Homo sapiens: one gene and its partners. The protein of the gene in region 1 interacts with the protein of each later gene in a biochemical or structural test. Each region holds a gene or a part of one and is shown in the gene's direction. Other genes may lie near its edges. The genes, in order: ADAP1, PRKD1 and PRKCI.

Region 1 (7,113 bases):
CCGTGTGAGGGGCTGCTCTGTGGGGAGAAGCCCCGTCTCACTGGCTGTTGCTGGTGCCGACTGGGGGCTGCAGGCCCCTGAGGTCCTGGCCCTCCCCAGCGAGGCCAAGGGGCTGGCCAGGCATGGGGAGAGCAGAGGCTCAGCCTGAGGTCTGGACTGGGCGTGGGGCGCGTCCGGGACCGTGGCCAGCGCCGTCCTGAAATACACTCCTGCGTCGTCATTGCCCCTGGAATGCGGCGTCCTGGCGCCTGCTGTCGGGAGGACCGGGGTTCCCGCTGGCGCCTGCTGTCGGGAGGACCGGGGTTCCCGCTGGCGCCTGCTGTCGGGAGGACCGGGGTTCCCGCTGGCGCCTGCTGTCGGGAGGACCGGGGTTCCCGCTGGCGCCTGCTGTCGGGAGGACCGGGGTTCCCGCTGGCGCCTGCTGTCGGGAGGTCCGGGGTTCCCGCTGGCGCCTGCTGTCGGGAGGACCGGGGTTCCCGCTGGCGCCTGCTGTCGGGAGGTCCGGGGTTCCCGCTGGCGCCTGCTGTCGGGAGGACCGGGGTTCCCGCTGGCGCCTGCTGTCGGGAGGACCGGGGTTCCCGCTGGCGTCTGGACCCCGAGAACACCGGAGCAGCTGCGCGCGTGCAGAGGGGCAGTGGCCTCCCAGACCCCGCGGCCTGCGCGCTTCCGGAGCACTGCTGTCACCTGCTGGGCGCGGCGGGCATGGCAGGGGCGCGTCCCCACCCTGTGGCCTAGGGAGCCCGGTCGCTGGAAGGGGCCCCCGCTGTGTCCTGGGCAGGGGTCTGTGGAACCGACACACTGGACCCAGCCAGCTCCACCCCCGTGGGCGAGGTGGCCCAAACTTGTCGTCTGCATTGGTGACACGGACACGCACGCCTTGGAGGCTCCCCGGGGTGCACACAAGGCCGTGAGCGGCAGAGGCCGGGAAGCGCCGCTGGGCCCGCTGCTGCGATGCCTCCCCGGGCACTTCTCGGCGTCCACCCTCAGCCACGAAGCGCCGCGTCCAAAGAGGTCCTGATGTCGGAGGCAGAGCCGTGGGGACACCCAGCTGTGCCTGGGCAGGGGCTCACTGAGTCAACAGGCGTTCTGAGCAGGCCTTACTTGGGTCTGAGGGACACTGGTGGCCTCGCTCTCACAGTGAGAAGCAGGAGAAGGGGGTTCTTCCATGGGAAGGGGGCTCCTGGCTGCTGCTGTGCGCACGGGGCTGGGGCAGCAGCCTTGTAGAGGCTTGGGGAGCGGGGAGCTCCGGGCAGTGAGGGGAGCAGGCCCCGTCTGGCACCATCCAAGACAGCCCAGGGCCCCCTCCCCGAGGGCACCAGCTGTCCCCTCCCCAACGCCAGGCGTTTTATGGCTTGCATCTCAGCAGAGAAAATAGCCCCTGGTCTCTGGTGTCGGGATGGGGCTGTCTGAGCTGGGGAGGGGATGCTGGGGAGCAGGGGGCTTTGGTGGTCAGGGCTGATGGGCGGTGTCTGCAATCTGAGCCTCTGTCTGGCCTGTTGGCTGCTGCAGGGGGCTGTTTAGCCCCGCCTGGAGCCCACAGCCCCCTCGCGTCCCTGTGGCGTAGGTCAGCAGCCCCTGCCCTCAGATGACCGGGGCTCCCAGGCCACATGGCCAGCAGGATGGGATGCTGTCCCCAAGCAAGTGCTCTCTGAAGTCACTGAGGGGTCACGGACAGGCCCACGGATGCTCAGCAGACGGCCCCACGACCCCGGGAAGGGCCCACGGACACTGGGCAGACGGCCCCGCGACCCCTGGAGGGGCCACGGATGCTCGGCAGACGGCTCCTCGGCAGACGGCCCCGCGACCTCCGGAGAGGCGGCGCCCACTGGGGATGCTTGGCAGACGGCCCCGTGATCCCAGGAGAGTCTGCACCCACTGAGGACCTGCTCGACCCTGGCCACGCAGCTGCTGCCAACGGCGGGACCTGCACGCGACCCAAGGCCTGGCAGACGGAGCCCAGGACACGGATGCTGCAAGCCACATGCTGTTGGGGCGGGACAGCCAGGGCCATAGAAGAAGCTGCATCTGAGTCCGCAGGACACAGAGTTCCAGAGCAGGAGAAAGGACGGGCAACGATAGGAACCACGGACAGGGAGCAGAAGTGGGAGCGGGGCCTGGGGGGGATGGGAACGCCCCTCTGAGTGGCCACACGTGGGTCACTGACCGCAGCTCAGTGACGTGAAGCCACACGTGTTTGTTCTCCCACAGCTCTGGCAGAGCTCCAGGACGATCCCACGGGCCCGAGACTCGGAGTGGGCAGAGCTGGTTCTGGGCTCAGGACGGGTCCTCTGGCCTCTCCCTGGTGCTCCTGGGCTCTGGGGCCCCCTCTGGCCTCAGTTTCCACGGCCACGTCCCCTTCCCTCCTGTCCTCATATCTCTGCCTCCCTCCCCTGTGATCGTCTGCCACAGCAGCGTCCTAACCACCCGTGCACGGTGTGTTTTGCCATAGAAGGTGGCGTGTCCAGGTGCTTAGGCTCCCAGGGGGATGCCCGGGCTACTTTTCTGTGGCTGTGTGTGGTGTGCGTGAGGCCACAGGCGGAGATGAGGGCTTGAGCTGGACTCCCCTCAGATGAGCTTTCCTGAAAAAAGAGGGGATGGCACCACCTGGACCCAGCAGCTGCGGACGGCTGAGGGAGGAGGGAGGAGGCCAGCCTGGTCCTCCCGGGCAGCACGAGGTTGGACCCAGCCCTGCCTCTGCCCATGGTGGCTCTGGCCATGTCCACTCAGGATGGGGAGGGTCCCTGGGGGCCAGTAAAGGACAGCTGGAGTCCCGCTCATCCAGGCCGTCCTCAGGCTGGCTTGGGCCAGGGTTGCAGCCAACAGCGCTGGTCCACTGTCATATCCCCTCACCAACCATCCACCATCACCATCTGACCCATGTCCCCCCATGTCCCCTGTCCCGTCCCCCGTGTCCCCTGTCCCCCATGTCCCCTGTCCATGTCCCCTATGTACTCTGTCCCCCATGTCCCGTCCCCGATGTCCCGTCCCCCATGTCCATGTCCCCCGTGTCCCCTGTCCATGTCCCCTTTCCCGCCCCCTTTCTCCTTTCCCTTTCTCCTTTCTCCTTTCTCCTTTCCCTTTCTCCCTTTCTCCCTTCTCCTTTCTCCTTTCTCCTTTCCCTTTCTCCTTTCCCTTTCTCCCTTTCTCCCTTCTCCTTTCTCCTTTCCCTTTCTCCTTTCTCCTTTCTCCCTTTCTCCTTTCCCTTTCTCCTTTCTCCTTTCTCCTTTCTCCTTTCCCTTTCTCCTTTCTCCTTTCTCCTTTCTCCTTTCCCTTTCTCCCTTTCTCCTTTCCCTTTCTCCTTTCTCCTTTCTCCTTTCTCCTTTCTCTTTCTCCCTTTCTCCTTTCCCTTTCTCCTTTCTCCTTTCCCTTTCTCCTTTCTCCTTTCTCCTTTCTCCTTTCCCTTTCTCCTTTCTCCCTTTCTCCTTTCTCCCTTTCTCCTTTCTCCCTTTCTCCTTTCTCCCTTTCTCCTTTCCCTTTCTCCTTTCTCCTTTCTCCTTTCTCCTTTCTCCTTTCCCTTTCTCCTTTCTCCTTTCTCCTTTCCCTTTCTCCTTTCTCCCTTTCTCCTTTCTCCCTTTCTCCTTTCTCCCTTTCTCCTTTCTCCCTTTCTCCTTTCCCTTTCTCCTTTCTCCCTTTCTCCTTTCTCCTTTCTCCTTTCCCTTTCTCCTTTCTCCTTTCCCTTTCTCCTTTCTCCTTTCTCCTTTCTCCTTTCCCTTTCTCCTTTCTCCCTTTCTCCTTTCTCCCTTTCTCCTTTCTCCCTTTCTCCTTTCTCCCTTTCTCCTTTCCCTTTCTCCTTTCTCCTTTCTCCTTTCTCCTTTCTCCCTTCTCCCTTCTCCCTTCTCCCTTCTCCCTTCTCCCTTCTCCCTTCTCCCTTCTCCCTTCTCCTTTCTCCTTTCTCCTTTCTCCTTTCTCCTTTCTCCTTTCTCCTTTCTCCCTTCTCCCTTCTCCCTTCTCCTTTCCCTTTCTCCTTTCCCTTTCTCCTTTCTCCTTTCTCCTTTCTCCTTTCTCCTTTCTCCTTTCCCTTTCTCCTTTCTCCTTTCTCCTTTCCCTTTCTCCTTTCCCTTTCTCCTTTCCCTTTCTCCTTTCTCCTTTCTCCTTTCTCCTTTCTCCTTTCTCCTTTCTCCTTTCTCCTTTCTCCTTTCTCCCTTCTCCCTTCTCCCTTCTCCCTTCTCCCTTCTCCCTTCTCCCTTCTCCCTTCTCCCTTCTCCTTTCTCCTTTCCCTTTCTCCTTTCTCCTTTCCCTTTCTCCCTTTCTCCCTTTCTCCTTTCTCCTTTCTCTTTCTCCCTTTCTCCTTTCTCCTTTCTCCTTTCTCCTTTCTCCTTTCCCTTTCCCTTTCCCTGCCCATCTTCCTATCTCCCTGTCTCCTCCATGTCCCCTCTCCCCGTCCGTCTCCCCCTGTCCGTGTCCCCCGTCCGTGTCCCCCGTGTCTTCTCCCCATGTCCCCTCTGTCCTGTCCATCGTCACTCCTTTTGTTTCCTCCCCCCCATCCACTGTCACCGACTCGTGTCCCCTTTCCCCCACAGGGTACCGTGAGGGTTTTCTCTGGAAGCGTGGCCGGGACAACGGGCAGTTTTTGAGCCGGAAGTTTGTGCTGACAGAACGAGAGGGTGCTCTGAAGTATTTCAACAGAAATGATGTGAGTCACAGACGGGGGTGGGGTGGGGGCCTGTCCCAGGGCGGCATCCCGGCCTCCCACACTGGGGCCTGTGGTGGCCGCGTCCATCCGCAGCTGCCCTCCCTGCTGCCCCCCCCGATGGGGACGCTCCAGGAGAACCGGCCTGTGTTGGGCTGAGCCTCTGTGTGCCGGACCCAGCGTCCCCCAGGGTGGGGCAGCTGAGGCTTTCCAGGAGCCTGGGCGGCCGGGCGGGGCCCCCTGAACTCAGGCCCAGCCGTGGGAGAGGGAGAACCTAGTCACTGGGCCCCTCTGGAGCCAGCCAGGACCCCAGAAAGCCCCTAGTTTTCCTGGAGGTACCCTGGGGAGACTGGACTGGGACAGGACAAACACATTGGCAAGAACAGTGGGGTCTTCACAAGGTGGCCCCAGACCCATGGGCTGATGGTCAGAAGCACCCGCCCTGAGCCGTGGCGGGCACTGGCTGGAGGTGGGCTGGTGGCTGGGGCCTGCCCCTGTGGGAGCTGCCGTGCCGTGTGGGGCCCGGGGCTGCCCCCGGGGAGGGAGGTGCAGTGTCTGATGTCAAGTGCCACCTGCACAGTGTCGTTGAGGTCCCCATCACTCCTGGGAGGGAGGTGCTGTTACCTTCTGCTTACAGACCGGGAGGCCAAGGCTCAGAGCGCTTAAGTAACTTGCCCAAAGCCACACAGCACAGCAGGTGCGCCGCCAGCACCCACAGGGTCTGCCCTTCCTGCTCCCTTGAGCTTGGACGACGGCCCCTGTGAGGTGCTTAGACCCCACCCCTTCTCAGGCCAAGGAGCCCAAGGCCGTGATGAAGATCGAGCACCTGAACGCCACCTTCCAGCCGGCCAAGATCGGCCACCCCCACGGCCTGCAGGTCACCTACCTGAAGGACAACAGCACCCGTAACATCTTCATCTACCATGAGGACGGGAAGGTGGGTGCTGGCGAGCACTCGGGCCCGGGTGGCACAGGAGGGTGGGCCCTCAGGCCCGGGTGGCGCAGGAAGGTGGGTGCTTGGACGGTACGGGAGGGTAGGCACTTGAGCTAGGCGGCATGAGAAGGCGGGAAGTCGGGCTGGGCAGCGTGGGAAGGCGGGTGCTTGGACGTGTGGGAGTGTGGGCACTGGCGCCGGGCAGCATGGGAAGACAGGTGCAGGAAGGCAGCTTCCCAGGGCCGGGCTGCCCAGGAGCCGGATCACCACGCTGTCTCTGGGGCCACCCAGCTTGGCCCTGTCAGTGGGGGCTGCCAGCTCGGGCTAGAGGATCCACCGCCCCCACAATGCCCAGAGGGGACCTCGGGGGGAACTGGGGTCCTACGGGGAGGAGATGTGGACGGTAGCCGGCTCTGGGGTGGTTTGGGTAGGGTTCCTTTGGCTGCCCTTGGTGTGGCGGCGGGGAGGGTGGGTGTACCCCGCATCTCTGGAGGGCTTGGGGGGAACCCAGGTAAAACCCCCACAAAAGCTATCCTTTTGTCTTTGGGCCAGGCTGCAGGGGGCGCAGCGGTGGGCCCAGCCTCTTTGTTACTTAGGTTCTTGTTTCTATGTTTATCACACGTCTGTGTGCACACGGTCTAAAGCGCTATATCGTTCCTAAATCTTGAGAAACAGAAGTTTGAGGTCCCTCCTAACCCCCGTTGGGAATTGGTCCCCATATCCAAAAATAAGCTGCCGGTGTCGCTGCAGATTTACCCACTTTAGGCACCATCTGACAACTTCCCACGTGGAAGTAGAGGTTCCAGCTCTTTCCATCCCCTCCCACGTGCCCGTCCCCTGCCTGCCGTGCTCCGCTGGCATCTGACCCTGGGTTTGTTAGGGGGCCGAGTCGGGTGCAGCCCCTGGCCTCAGAGCACGCTGTGATCGCTCTTCCCACAGTAAGCGGCTGTGTTCCTTGCCGCAGTTGACCATGTGTTGCCGCAGACTCTCCGCAGACTGTTGTCTCTGGAGGCAGTCGGGCACCAGGAGCCTGCGACTCCCACGGCCTGGAGATCTCGCTCCTGCAGCCTCATCTGGTTCCTGGGTGGAGCCCTGCTGCCCGGGTCCTACGTCTTTCTCGTTTACTTATTCCTCTTGGTAGAAGTGATGTGCCTGGAGGGAAAGGGGTCACCTGGCACCTTGGACTGTTCTACCTCCTGCCTGGCTTAGACTGTGGCTAGATATAGAATTCTAGGTTGGAATTAATTTTCCTGCTAATTCTGAAGGCTTTGCACCACGGATTCCTCCATCCTAGTACGTTTGTCCCGCGGTTTTGAAATTCTCCAATGCTGTGCGTGTGTTGGCAAGGGTCCCTCGTCTTTTCATGTGCTGGGTACAGGCCCAGGGTGGCCCTTCCAGTCCAGTTACTGGTTTCCATGAGGTCAGGGATTGCTTTCTTATCTAATGATTTCCTCCCTCCACTTTCCCTGTTCTCATTTTCTGAAACTCCTGTTATTGGTGCTCTTAAACTGGTTCATTTTTCTTCTACTTTCTGGGAAATTTCTTCAAC
Region 2 (5,982 bases), on another chromosome or scaffold:
TTTAAGACTTGCTCAAAGAATAATTAATAGGCCTGGCAGTTGGTAATGTGTTTTGTGATAGAGTCAGAAAGCCCTATGTTTAGGCCTTATCCTGAAAAAAGTTCTAATAATTGTATTAATACATAGCAGATGGGCTTATTCGGTGTGAGCATGACAGAAAGCTAGGAGAATTAACGATATGAGGCAGAGCTATGGTCACAGAGATGTACATACACATACACACACATCCTTGCGTTCAAGCACATAAAAGTGTGGTGGAAACATAACTAAGAATGTAATTATCATGACTGTAAAAATAAAATGTTAATTTTTGAGATAATTATCCACTTACAATGATAAGTTAATGGCATAATATGGCTGCAGTCTGCCATAGTGTTTAAGAGCACAGGCTTTGAATTCCAGTCCCCCTGGGTTTCAAATTCAGCTGTATTGCCTAGGAGCTGTCTGACTTTGACCAACTTACATGGCCTTTTGAAGCGTCACGTTTTCCTTTTATTAAAATGGAGATTAAAATAATAACTACTTTCAGGGGGTTGTTATAAGGACTAAATAAGAATATGAATGTAATTTTTTAAAAAAGAATGAAAACCCCTCAATCCTAGACTATATGAATAATATATTTGCGTATAATTCAAATTGGCAGTTAGTGAGGAAAATGTTGGTCAGTGATGATCACTGAATTTTAACAGGGACATTGAGTAGAGCTAGTGACTATTAAAATCGAGGTGTACAGGAGGACTAAGCAGGCTGAAAGATCTGAAGGAACTATAGAGGTGAGATTAAGGGGAATGAATCACTGTCTCCAAAGATGTAAAGAACTGTCATATAGAATAAAGTTTTCCATTGCATCTAAAACATAAATAGGACTAATGACAGTAAGTTATAAAAAGAAAACACTTTTTTTTTTTTGCTTTGAGTAGGATATGAATTAAAGGTCAAAGATTCAGAATGGTGTATTGTGTCATGATGTCATCTGTGGTCTGGGGAGGGGCATGCATGTGCCTTTGCAACTAGATTGTGAGCTTTTCGGGGTCAGGGCTTGATCATTAACTTTTTATTTCATAAGTAATTGCCAACAGGAATTAAGGAAGATTTGGTGAATGAACAGATAAATGAATGATTTATACATACATAATACATCTGAGACTATTTTATTACATGAATATTGTATCAATGTAGACATGGCCAGTAAAGAGAATATTGGAAGGAAAAAAGCCTCTAAACTGTGTTCAAAAATGTTTAGTAAAACGCATTTTGGATGGTATAGTTAATGCTGGATTGTATACAACTTGATTAATAAAAAGGATATTTTAAGAGTTCCAGAAAAGTAACAAGCAGAACAGAATTCTCAACTACAAATGACGGACCTATTTTCTCACTAATACCGTGGTCCCAACATTTAGCTATAGGTGCTAACATTTAATAGTTCATTATTTCTGTTGTGTGCTTCCAAAAGCCACAAAATGTATGTATACACACACACACACATTTATTTATACATACACGTTTCTCCTCTAATTCTCTCCTTATATCCTTAACCATTTTCTCTTGGAAGTAGTTGCCATTGCCTTGTTGTGCTTACTCAGGTCACTTGGGTTGGGTACTGTGGCGTAGTCAGACTAATGATTGTATGCTTCATTCAGCAGAACAATTTTTTCATTTTTACTTATTCCATTCCCTTCAGACACTTCTAGTTTCCCCTCTGATAGTACTTCCCTCCCCATTATGCAGTGTGGTTCACTGTTGGGGCCCATTTGGGCACAAACGAGACCTTTTGTTGAGTTACTGTACTCCTGCCTTTCTAATTACAGAATTCCAAACAGAATGAGTGAATTAATGACATGAATTTATTTCCTGCAGTGTCTAGGGCAGTGTAATGCTGCAGCAAGCTTGCAATAGCACATAAGCTCTCCCTTCACTCCTTGTCCTCCATTTTTGCCGGGTGACTTCACAGCAGCAAGAATGGAAGGTGCACTTTACTCACCAGTGAGTAAATCATGTGAATGGATATTTTAAAGCACATGCCCTATACGCAGTTCACAGAACTATACTTTTAAAAGCTCTCTGAGAACACATGCTTGGAATATGAAAATGTACTGAGTACTGTATTTCTTCAGGTATCCTAGGTAAGGCAAGAGTGTATAGGCATAGGCAACATTTAAATGTGTGTTGTTGCATTTCATTTCTCCAAATAATTGTTTGATATTTGACTCTACAGCCCTTCAGGGCAGGCAAATACTTGTAACATTAGCTCCATAGAGATATGGTTCTCAATTACCAAAAGACTGTAGAAGTCACTTTTCTTTGCCTGACACTGGGAAGGATTCTGATTGAAGGAAGCAGTCTTTGTTCCTCTGGTCTCATGTGACAGTCTGTATCTTCAGGTCCATACAGGTTGATGCACACCAAAAAGTGGATTCAAAGCTGCCTATTCAAGACTTGGTGATAGGGAAAGATGAGGAGTTAATTTTCATTTTCGTTTATCAGCTGCCTGTTTGATTAAGATTTTTGGTAGGAAGAGCCATCTTTCAGACATAATGCCTAGGGTAGGTTAAGGGCAAAAATTAACTCTTTGAAATATAAATGCTTCCTATTAGGTTGGCAGATTTCACTAAGCTCTTTTTGGGAAGAAAATGCTAAAATTCAAAAAGAGAAACATGGAAGTTATTACAAGAATGAGAAGTGTGAGGGAATGACTTTAATAAATAATGAACTATTAATGACGTATACTGAAAATATAATGTCCAGAAAAGGAGAGTGAGAACTCCATCACATGATACTGTGGGTAACTAGGATGATTTTCAGACTAGATAACGATGAGTATTACTTTTTCTTCATAAATTACACTCACAGACTCCCCAGTCACAAGCAGAGTACTAGGCCAGAGGGATTGTGGTTCTAACCCCTCAGAGAACATTTCTTGTTAAATAGACTTCTTTCCTGTCTTCCTCTAGAAAGTCTATGAAGGCTGATATAATTCCAATACATTGGTTATTTTTGAAAGCAAAAGCAAAGTGAAAGCAATTAAAGTGTTTTCTTCTTGGGCTGTTGGTTTTCAGGCTCCAAGTTTATCATGAGATATGACCCATGTTATGATGCATTTTTTCCATACAAATATGATGTTCAGATATCTGTCATTTAATTCAATACTGTGTGAACCATTGTGTGTATTCAAACGTTCAGCATGTTTTATAACAAAATTAGTAAATGCTTTATCTTGAATATTAGTTTTATCCTGCCCATATTGTAAGACATATTTAAATGATGTACATATAAACAAAATTTCTAAATTAAAGAAAGTGTTAAAGAGTAGACCAATTGAAATTCATATCATACAATAGACTCTAATACTTCTTCCATAATTACTTCCAACTTCTTCTTTTTTTTTTTTTTTTTTTTTTTTTTTTAGTATCCAAAATAAAATGAAGGCCAAAGTTTCAGTATTCTTAAGAGGATTTTTTTTTTTGGTTCTAGTGCCTTGTCACTATGCTGCATTTAACTGTGTGAAATAGCAGATGTGAAATAAACTATAAATGAATTATGCATATGTTACAGATTTGTCATCTATTTTTACTGGTAATTTTTTTCAGCCATTGATCTTATCAACAATTTGCTGCAAGTAAAAATGAGAAAGCGCTACAGTGTGGATAAGACCTTGAGCCACCCTTGGCTACAGGTAAACAATAATCACTGAGTTTTCTTAGTTGAATGAGCTTCTAAATATTTATAGGATTTTGATATTTAGAAATCTTTTGCAATAATTTTTAAAGTGTGATTATTCTAATATCAATTTATTTGCTCAAATGCATGCAACTTCATAGGATTTAATAACAATTTAGTGTTTCTAAACATTTTTCTCTACCAGGATAATTTGATAGAAGAGATACACGCACGCATATACACACACACACACAGCCCAAAACCAAAAGGCAAAACCAAAAATAAATAAATAAACCAAGGATCATAACAGACCTCAGAGGACCAGATTTCAAAAGCATCTGTATGTGTAATCCTGATAAATGTACAAATAGATGCCCATCTGGTCATGCACTGTACTCATTTAGAAGCTATATTTTTAAATGCTAGGTTATTATATATGGAACAAATGCATGGCAAATACAAAGTATATGGATGTGCTTTATTATTTTCACATCGAATTTAAACTTTAGGAAACTAATACTCTGAAATACTGAAAGATTATTTGTAGGCATTAAATTTCAAAGGAATACTGGCATTCCTGATTGCTTGACTGCAAACATTAATTGCCCACTCTTTGATCCATGCTATCTTATAAACAGTATGTATTTGCAAAGGTTAGACAAATAGGATGGCTTTGGTGCCGACACTGTCACTTGAGGATGCGTGATGAAAGATTCAGCGCTGTTAGAGTGGAAGGAGAAGGGTAACTCATAGATTGCAGAAACTGACATCATATGAAACAGTATGTTGAGTTGTAATGATCTCTATGGTAATATTTTGGAATTTCTTCTTCAGGACTATCAGACCTGGTTAGATTTGCGAGAGCTGGAATGCAAAATCGGGGAGCGCTACATCACCCATGAAAGTGATGACCTGAGGTGGGAGAAGTATGCAGGCGAGCAGGGGCTGCAGTACCCCACACACCTGATCAATCCAAGTGCTAGCCACAGTGACACTCCTGAGACTGAAGAAACAGAAATGAAAGCCCTCGGTGAGCGTGTCAGCATCCTCTGAGTTCCATCTCCTATAATCTGTCAAAACACTGTGGAACTAATAAATACATACGGTCAGGTTTAACATTTGCCTTGCAGAACTGCCATTATTTTCTGTCAGATGAGAACAAAGCTGTTAAACTGTTAGCACTGTTGATGTATCTGAGTTGCCAAGACAAATCAACAGAAGCATTTGTATTTTGTGTGACCAACTGTGTTGTATTAACAAAAGTTCCCTGAAACACGAAACTTGTTATTGTGAATGATTCATGTTATATTTAATGCATTAAACCTGTCTCCACTGTGCCTTTGCAAATCAGTGTTTTTCTTACTGGAGCTTCATTTTGGTAAGAGACAGAATGTATCTGTGAAGTAGTTCTGTTTGGTGTGTCCCATTGGTGTTGTCATTGTAAACAAACTCTTGAAGAGTCGATTATTTCCAGTGTTCTATGAACAACTCCAAAACCCATGTGGGAAAAAAATGAATGAGGAGGGTAGGGAATAAAATCCTAAGACACAAATGCATGAACAAGTTTTAATGTATAGTTTTGAATCCTTTGCCTGCCTGGTGTGCCTCAGTATATTTAAACTCAAGACAATGCACCTAGCTGTGCAAGACCTAGTGCTCTTAAGCCTAAATGCCTTAGAAATGTAAACTGCCATATATAACAGATACATTTCCCTCTTTCTTATAATACTCTGTTGTACTATGGAAAATCAGCTGCTCAGCAACCTTTCACCTTTGTGTATTTTTCAATAATAAAAAATATTCTTGTCAAAATATGTGTCCACCTCATTGAACTATTTTCATTCATCGTTCACACTAGGGTTTTCAGGCCAACTAGGAGCAGAAGTGTCTGCTCAAAAAGCAGGAAAAAAGCTCATAGTGTAGAATGTAGTTTTATCTACTCTGAAGCAGTAAAAGTATGTTTCAAAGTGGAGTGAGGCCTTCCTGTCTTGCATGTGGTTTAATTTCTAATAGAAAGGAAGGCTTTCAAAGTGAAAAGTGACCAAAGCCAAACAGAGTGCTTGGAGGCATAGTTAGGATGACTCTGAGTAGTTGGAATATTGCAAATAGCATCTTAATGTAGCTTCCTGATTTAGTCAATATAAGCTAGAGATTTATTAGAATACCAGATCTGGTTTCTTTTCATATGATCTAAAGATGGTTCTGAGGTGAACCAAAAAATACTAGAAAGTAATCCCTAAACAGAAAGGCATCTCAAGTGAAGTTCTACAGCCTGGAGAAGACAAATTGGACCTAGCAGATTTGAGGTATATAATATGAATA
Region 3 (7,113 bases), on another chromosome or scaffold:
TGGTATTACATAGTCAGCTGCTCATTAATATAGATGAAGCTAAAATGAGTCACGGACAAGGATAGTTAATAAACAGGTTGGCTAACTAGAACACCTACCTGATTTTAAAATAGAAAATCCTTCCTTTATACCAAGAAATGTGAGAACATTCTGCATTTGAAAAAGTTTTCTTTTCTCTCCAATCTTCTGAAGGGCCATTATTACATAGCATTTCCTCTATCCCTCTACACTTTTCTTTTCTTTTTTTTTTTTTTAAATAGAGACAAGGTCTCACCGTGTTGCCCAGGCTAATCCCAAACTCCTGGGCTCAAGTGATCCTCCTGCCTCAGCCTCTCAAAGTGCTGGGATTACAGGTGTGAGCCACTGTACCTGGCTCCACTACCCTTTTCTAACAATATTTCTTTCCAGTGAATGTTGACTCATTTAATAGCCAGCATTTTTTTTAGTGAAAAAATTGCCCTCTCTTTTCAAAGATGTGTATAGTGTTATTATTCTGTTAAGCTTGATCTCAGTGAAAACGTGTAATCTCTCTAGATCTAATAACATTTAATTTTTTTCTAATTTTTATTTTATTTTATTTTATTTATTTATTTTTTTGGAGATGGAGTCTCGCTCTGTCACCTGGGCTGGAGTGCAGTGGCGTGATCTCGGCTCATTGCAACCTCCGCCTCCCAGGTTCAAGGGATTCTCCTGCGGCTGCCTCCCGAGTAGGTGGGACTACAGGCGCCCACCACCACGCCCAGCTAATTTTTGTATTTTAGTAGAGACGGGTTTTCACCATGTTGGCCAGGTTGGTCTCCCAACTTCTGACCTCAAGTGATCCACCCACCTCGGTCTCCCAAAGTGTTGGGATTACAGGAATGAGCCATCTTGCCCAGCCAATTTACATCTAGTTTTTAAGCAAGAGATTAATAGCACTGAAAATTCAATTTTATTGGACACCACATCTTACTTAGATGCCTTTCTCATGGCCTGCACCCGTCTTTTCCTAGCAAGGAAGCTTTTCAGTGAGGGGCCTTCAGTTATTACCTAGTGCTAGTAGTTTGGAGGAAGAGAAACAGGTTTCATTAATTAGTGATAAACTGTCAATGTATGTGCTTATCCTTATATAAAATTACTTGCTATTATGGGATAGACTTTAACAAGGCAACATCTGGACTGCTCATTTCTTTACATTATATATGTATGGAAATTTTTGCAGAAAGCTTGTGAAAGTTCTTTTTAAACCGCTGCTGTCAAGTAGTAATAACAATACAGAGGATTCCTTCTGTGCACATCTAGAAATAAAAGATTAACTCTTTGCATATTTGGAATAGCTGCTTCAGTGAAGAAGTATGTAGGATTTTTCTTACTGTGAACAAGTCTTGGCAAGACTTGTTTTTGAAAGAAATGCAAGATTATTTTAGCAATATACTTTAGTAATGGTTCTGAGGAAATACAAGTGGTATCTTGAGGGTTGGGGGGATGTTAGCTAATTGGTCTTAGAGCTTCAGCCATGGCACCTAATCCTAGGGCAGCTGATCCATAGCTTGGCCAAAGAGAGAAAAAAATAGAGCATGCTAGCCTGGTGCCAAAAAACCCAAACCAAACACAAAAAACCCTCAGAAATTTGAATGAGAAAATATGGAGATAAAATTGGTCAGCACTGGGAACTGAAGCTGGAGTTGGAGGGAGAGTCTGGCGAGGCCAGAACTGACAATGTGCAAATGAAAGATGTGAAGAAGCAGAAACTGAGGAAGCAAAGGAGAAAGGAGCAACTCTGCACAGAAAAATTCTCCCCACAGGTCCTTAGTTCATGATGGCTTTCTAATGCAACTGCAGCCCTCCTTTTACAACTTTAGTGTCTGTTTTTTTTATGATTGAAATGAGCCTAATTTAAACATAGATTTTAAAAATTCCAGTCTTGCTTAAGATTTCAAATATAACCAGAGATCATTCAAACTGAGTTTAGTAAATATTGTTGAACGTCCGTAATCCAGGCACATGATGCTGTCGTAGGCACAGAGAATGTAGAGGTAGGTAAGGCTCTGCCTTTAAGGAATTAAGAGACTTGTGGAGGGAAGGACATATAAGAGTTACAATAGAAACAATTTAATTTGAAGTACCTATGTAAGGTATTTGCAGGAATAGACGTTGGGGAGGAGTTTGGGGTGATGGAAGCCTTCCTAGAGGAAATGTCTGAGGCTTTTAAAGGATAACTAGGAGTTTGCCTGGTGAATAATGATGTTAGGTGGGTGTTATAGGCATTAAACAACCACATGGTAAGTTTGCAGAATTAAGATCACTTTGGCTGTTAGTCTCATATTCATTCCTTATTAGGATATAAAGTATGAAGTGGGCACTGATGAGAAATGAGGCTAAGAAAGTTCACAGGGGCTAGATTGTAAAGACCCTTGAATGTCATACTGCAGAGTTTAGACTTTTTCTCATTGATGAAAATTCTAAGTAAGAGAAATACATGATCAGATTTGCATTTTAGAAAGATAACACTTGAAATTAGTATGGGAGATGGATTGGTGATGGATGAAACTAATTTGGAGGCTTTTGAAGTAGTCCAGATGAGATATTTTAAGGAGAGAGAAAAGAGTGTATGGATTCGGTGGAAATTTTAAGGGGTAGTATCAGTAGAATTAAAGATAGTCTTGTAGGGGTGACGGGAGTTGGACAACTCATAGGTTTCTCGTTTAAGAGAGACTGGGGAATGTGGAAGAGATTTGTGGGAGAAGTTAATTAATTGGCTGGAACAATTCACTGAATTTTGAGTTCTAGGTGTTTATGAGGCATTCAGGAGGAAATGTCAGAAAGAATGGAGCAATTATTTATTGTCTGTCTACTCTGTGTTGCAAGCACTGTGCTTGACAGCTAACCTATGTAGGAATGTGGCTGAGAACGATAATAGAAACAAAAATGACACCAGTGGCCAAATACAGATCACAAAGGCAAGGCACTAAAACTAAATTTTAAAAATATAGAAATACAGAAAGAGGCTGGGTATGGTGGTTCATGCCTGTAATCCCAGCACTTTGGGAGGTCAGGGCAGGTGAATCACTTGAGCCCAGGAATTGGAGACCAGCCTGGGCTGAATGTGGTGAAACCCTATCTCTACAAAAAAATTAGCCTGTAGTCCTAGCTACTAGGAGGGCGAGGTGGGAGAATCACCTGAGGCCAGGAAGTCAAGGCTGCAGTGAGCTGTGATTGCACCACTGCACTCCAGCCTGGGCAACAGAGTGAGACCCTGTCTCACACACACACAGACATACACACACACAAATATATATATATATACACACACACACACACACACACACATATACATACACACACATATAAAGTTCCCCTGTAGTCTCTCACTCCCACCTTATTTTATTTTATTAGTTTATTTTTATATATTTAAAGGGTACAAGTGCAGATTTCTTTCTTTCTTACATGTTTGTATCATGTAGCCATGAAGTCTGGTCACTTAGTGTACCCATCACCGGAACAGTAAACAGTAAAACCCAGAAAATTACCTGTACCCGATAGGTATTTTTCAACCCTCACCCCCCTCCCACCTTTTGTAGTCTCCAATGTCTACTATTCCCTCTTTATGTCCATGTGTACCCTTTGTTTAGCTCTCACTTATAAGTGAGAATATGTGGTATCTGGCTTTTTGTTTCTGATTTTTTTGACTAGGGATAATGGCCTTCAGTTCCATCCATGCTGGTGTAGAAGACGTGATTTCATTATTTTTTATGGCTGTCTCACTCCCACTTTCTAGAGATAGCCATTGTTAACAGTTAGGGATATTCTATATCATATCGGTATATTTATAAGTATAGATATGTATGTGCATACACACACACAGACATACCCTTTTATTTTTCCAATAAATGAGTTCATATTTCCACACATGCATCTGCAACTTGATTTTAAAAATCGTGGTCATCTTTTCATTCCAGGGTAGACAGACCTCTTTATAGTTGGTAATACAGTGTTCTACAGTTGTTGTTGTTGTTTTAAGAGACAGAGTCTGATTCTGTTGCCTACGCTGGAGTGCAGTGGCATGATCTAGGCCCTCTGCAGCCTCAACCACTCTGGGTTCAAGCAGTCCTCCCACCTCAGCCTCCTGAGTAGCTAGGATTAGCTCACGCCACTAGGCTCAGCTAATTTTTTTTAATATGTTTTGTAGGGACGGGGCTGGTCTCAAGCTCCTGTGCTCAAGTGATTCTCCTGCCTCGGCCTCTCAAAGTGTAGAAATTACAGGCATGAGCCATTGCGCCCAGCCACCATAATATGTTTAATCTTTTTTCGGATTGATGAACATTTAAAGTTGTCTTCATCAACTCACTATTTCAAATAATGTTGAAGGAACCTCCTTATATTTAATACATATTCTTGTAAATATGGTCAAAGATATGCCTATCTTGAAATATGATATTGTTTCCCAAAAGAGCTTAATTTACATTCTTAACAACAGGACTAGTGAAGCTTCTGCCTTATATTCCCATTGCATGTTATCTGTCTTTTAAATTTTTGACTGTCAGATTGGCAAAAAATGGTAATTTATTTTTACAAGTATCTTTTATATATTAATGATCATTTGTATTTCTTCTGGATTGTTCCTATTTTACCCATTTTCTATTGTATTATTTTTCTTATTAATTTGTTGACAGGACATTGACATTTTGTTAAAGTTGCCAGCATTTCCCCAATCTGTTGCTAGTCTGGAGTTTTTCGTTTTTATGTCATCAAACCTGTCCTTTTTAAAAATTTCCTTGATAGTTTCTGGATTTACTGTCTTAGGTAAAAGTGTTTTTCATCTAAAAATATTCTATTTTTCTTCTATTATGCAACTTTTTTTTTTTTTTTTTTGAGACAGAGTCTTGCTTTGTTGCCCAGGGTAGAACCCAGTGGCGTGATCTCGTCTTACTGCAACCTTTGCCTCCTGGGTTCTAACAATCCTCCTGCCTCAGCCTCCTAAGTAGCTGGGATTATAGGCGCACGCCACAACACCCGGCTAATTTTTGTTTGTTTTTTGAGACAAGGTCTTGCTCAGTCGCCCAGGCTGGAGTGCAGTGGCACGATCCTGGCTCACTGCAGCCTCTGCCTCCTGGGTTGAAGTGATTCTCCTGCCTCAGCCTCCCAAGTAGCTGGGATTACAGGCATGCGCCACCATGTCCGGCTAATTTTTTATTTTTAGTAGAGACAGGGTTTTGCCATGTTGGCCAGGCTGGTCCCAAACTCGTGACCTCAAGTGATTCACCCGCTGTGGCCTCCCGAAGTGCTGGGATTTTAGGCGTGAGCCACTGCGCCTGGCTTATTATGAAACTTTTAAAGTGATTATCTTTTCAGTGAATCTGGTATTTTGGGGTTTAGTCATTTATAGGGTACTGACACAACTTTTTTTTTCTCCAAAATTTATTCTAATACCATTATTGGGCAGATTGTCCTTTCACCACTGATTTGAAATGGTAACTCTGTTATGTACTAAATTTCCCACAATGTGCGTAGGTACTTTCTATTGTTTCATTGATTTTAGGGGAGAGATCTATTTTTGCACATACCACTATTGGTTTAATTATTGTAATATTATAGTTAACTTTGATATATGTTATGGAATGGCTTGATTCATTATTTAATTTTTTTTTTTTGTTTTTTTTTTTTTTGAGATGGAGCCTTGCACTGTCACCCAGGCTGGAGCGCAGTGGCGTGATCTTGGCTCACTGCAACCTCCGCCTCCCAGGTTCAAGCGATTCTCCAGTCTCAGTCTCTCAAGTAGCTGGGATTACAGGCAAGGCGCTACCATGCCTGGCTAATTTTTGTATTTTTAGTGAAAATGGGGTTTCACCATGTTGGCCAGGCTGGTCTGGAACTCCTTACCTCAGGTGATCCATCTGCCTCGGCCTCCCGGAGTGTTGAGATTACAGGCTTGAGCCACCGTGCCCGGCCTATTCCTATATATTTTATAATCATGTGCTTTTGTGAATGGGGTCTTCTTGTAGACCTATTACATACTGTTTTCTTTTTGTATGTTTAAATTAAACTTTCCACCTTACTAATAATTTAACTGTCTTAGAATTTTTAAGCTAGATAATGTCATCTGCAAGTAGCAATTTTGCCTCTTCTTTTCTATATCTTATTTATTTATTTATTATTTATTTTATGTTTTTTGAGACAGAGTCTCACTCTGTCGCCCAGGCTGGAGTGTAGTGGCGTGATCTCGGCTCACTGCAACCTCCGCGTCCCAAGTTCAAGTGATTCTCCTGCCTCAGCCTCCTGAGTAGCTAGGATTACAGGCGTGCACCACCACACCTGGCTAATTTTTGTAGTTTTAGTAGAGATGGGGATTCGCCATGTTGGCCAGACTGGTCTCGAACGCCTGACCTCAGGTAATCCACCCACCTTGGCCTCCCAAAGTGCTAGGATTACAGGTGTGAGCCACTGCGCCCAGCCTTATTTATTTTTAGCCATAGGCTAGAATTTTCTAGACAGTATTGAATTATAGTAATAATCTCTTATCTTAGTGAAATATAATAGAAAAATTTCTGTCAATTAAAGAAAAAAGCTTTTAAAGAATTAAAGTTAGTGTTATTCAGAAATGTTACTGAGGCCGAGTGTGGTGGCTCACGCCTGTAATTGTGCCACTGCACTTCAACCTGGGTGACAGAGCGAGACTCTGTCTCAAAAAAAACTCAACTGAAAAAAGTGGAACAAAAGAAAAAGAACCATGATAAGTATTTTGCACTTTTTTTTTTTTTGAGGCACATTTCTACTCTGTCACCCAGGCTGAGTACAGTGGTGTAATCACAGCTCACTGCAGCCTTAACTGCCCAGGCTCACGCAGTCCTCCTACCTCAGCCTCCCAAGTAGTTGGGACTGTAGGCACACACCACTATGTCTGGCTAATTTTTAATTTTTTTGTAGAGACAAGGTCTCCCTGTGTTGCCCAGGCAGGCCTCGAACTCCTGTACCGAAGCGATCCTCCCACATTGGCCTTTCAAAGTGCTGGGATTATGGCATGAGCCACCTTGCCTGGCTGCACTCATTTATTTTCATTTATTTTTCATTTTTTGAGTCAGTGTCTTCCTCCATCACCCAGGCTAGAGTGCAATGACATAGTCACAGCTCACTGCA

Evidence for each region.
Region 2: the proteins of ADAP1 (region 1) and PRKD1 form a complex in vitro, tested with the Homo sapiens proteins (one study listed by BioGRID).
Region 3: the proteins of ADAP1 (region 1) and PRKCI form a complex in vitro, tested with the Homo sapiens proteins (one study listed by BioGRID).

Annotation. Positions count from the first base shown.
Region 1 is NC_000007.14:902,580-909,692, reverse strand, and holds part of ADAP1 (arf-GAP with dual PH domain-containing protein 1), read left to right. Parts: intron 1-4,520; coding exon 4,521-4,633; intron 4,634-5,420; coding exon 5,421-5,567; intron 5,568-7,113. UniProt on the Homo sapiens protein: GTPase-activating protein for the ADP ribosylation factor family. Binds phosphatidylinositol 3,4,5-trisphosphate (PtdInsP3) and inositol 1,3,4,5-tetrakisphosphate (InsP4). Regulates the incorporation of CD63 and CD9 into multivesicular bodies.
Region 2 is NC_000014.9:29,575,969-29,581,950, reverse strand, and holds the end of PRKD1 (serine/threonine-protein kinase D1), read left to right. Parts: intron 1-1,860; exon of another isoform or gene 1,861-1,986; intron 1,987-3,590; coding exon 3,591-3,676; intron 3,677-4,494; coding exon 4,495-4,713; 3' UTR 4,714-5,472; downstream 5,473-5,982.
Region 3 is NC_000003.12:170,225,333-170,232,445, forward strand, and holds part of PRKCI (protein kinase C iota type), read left to right. Parts: intron 1-7,113.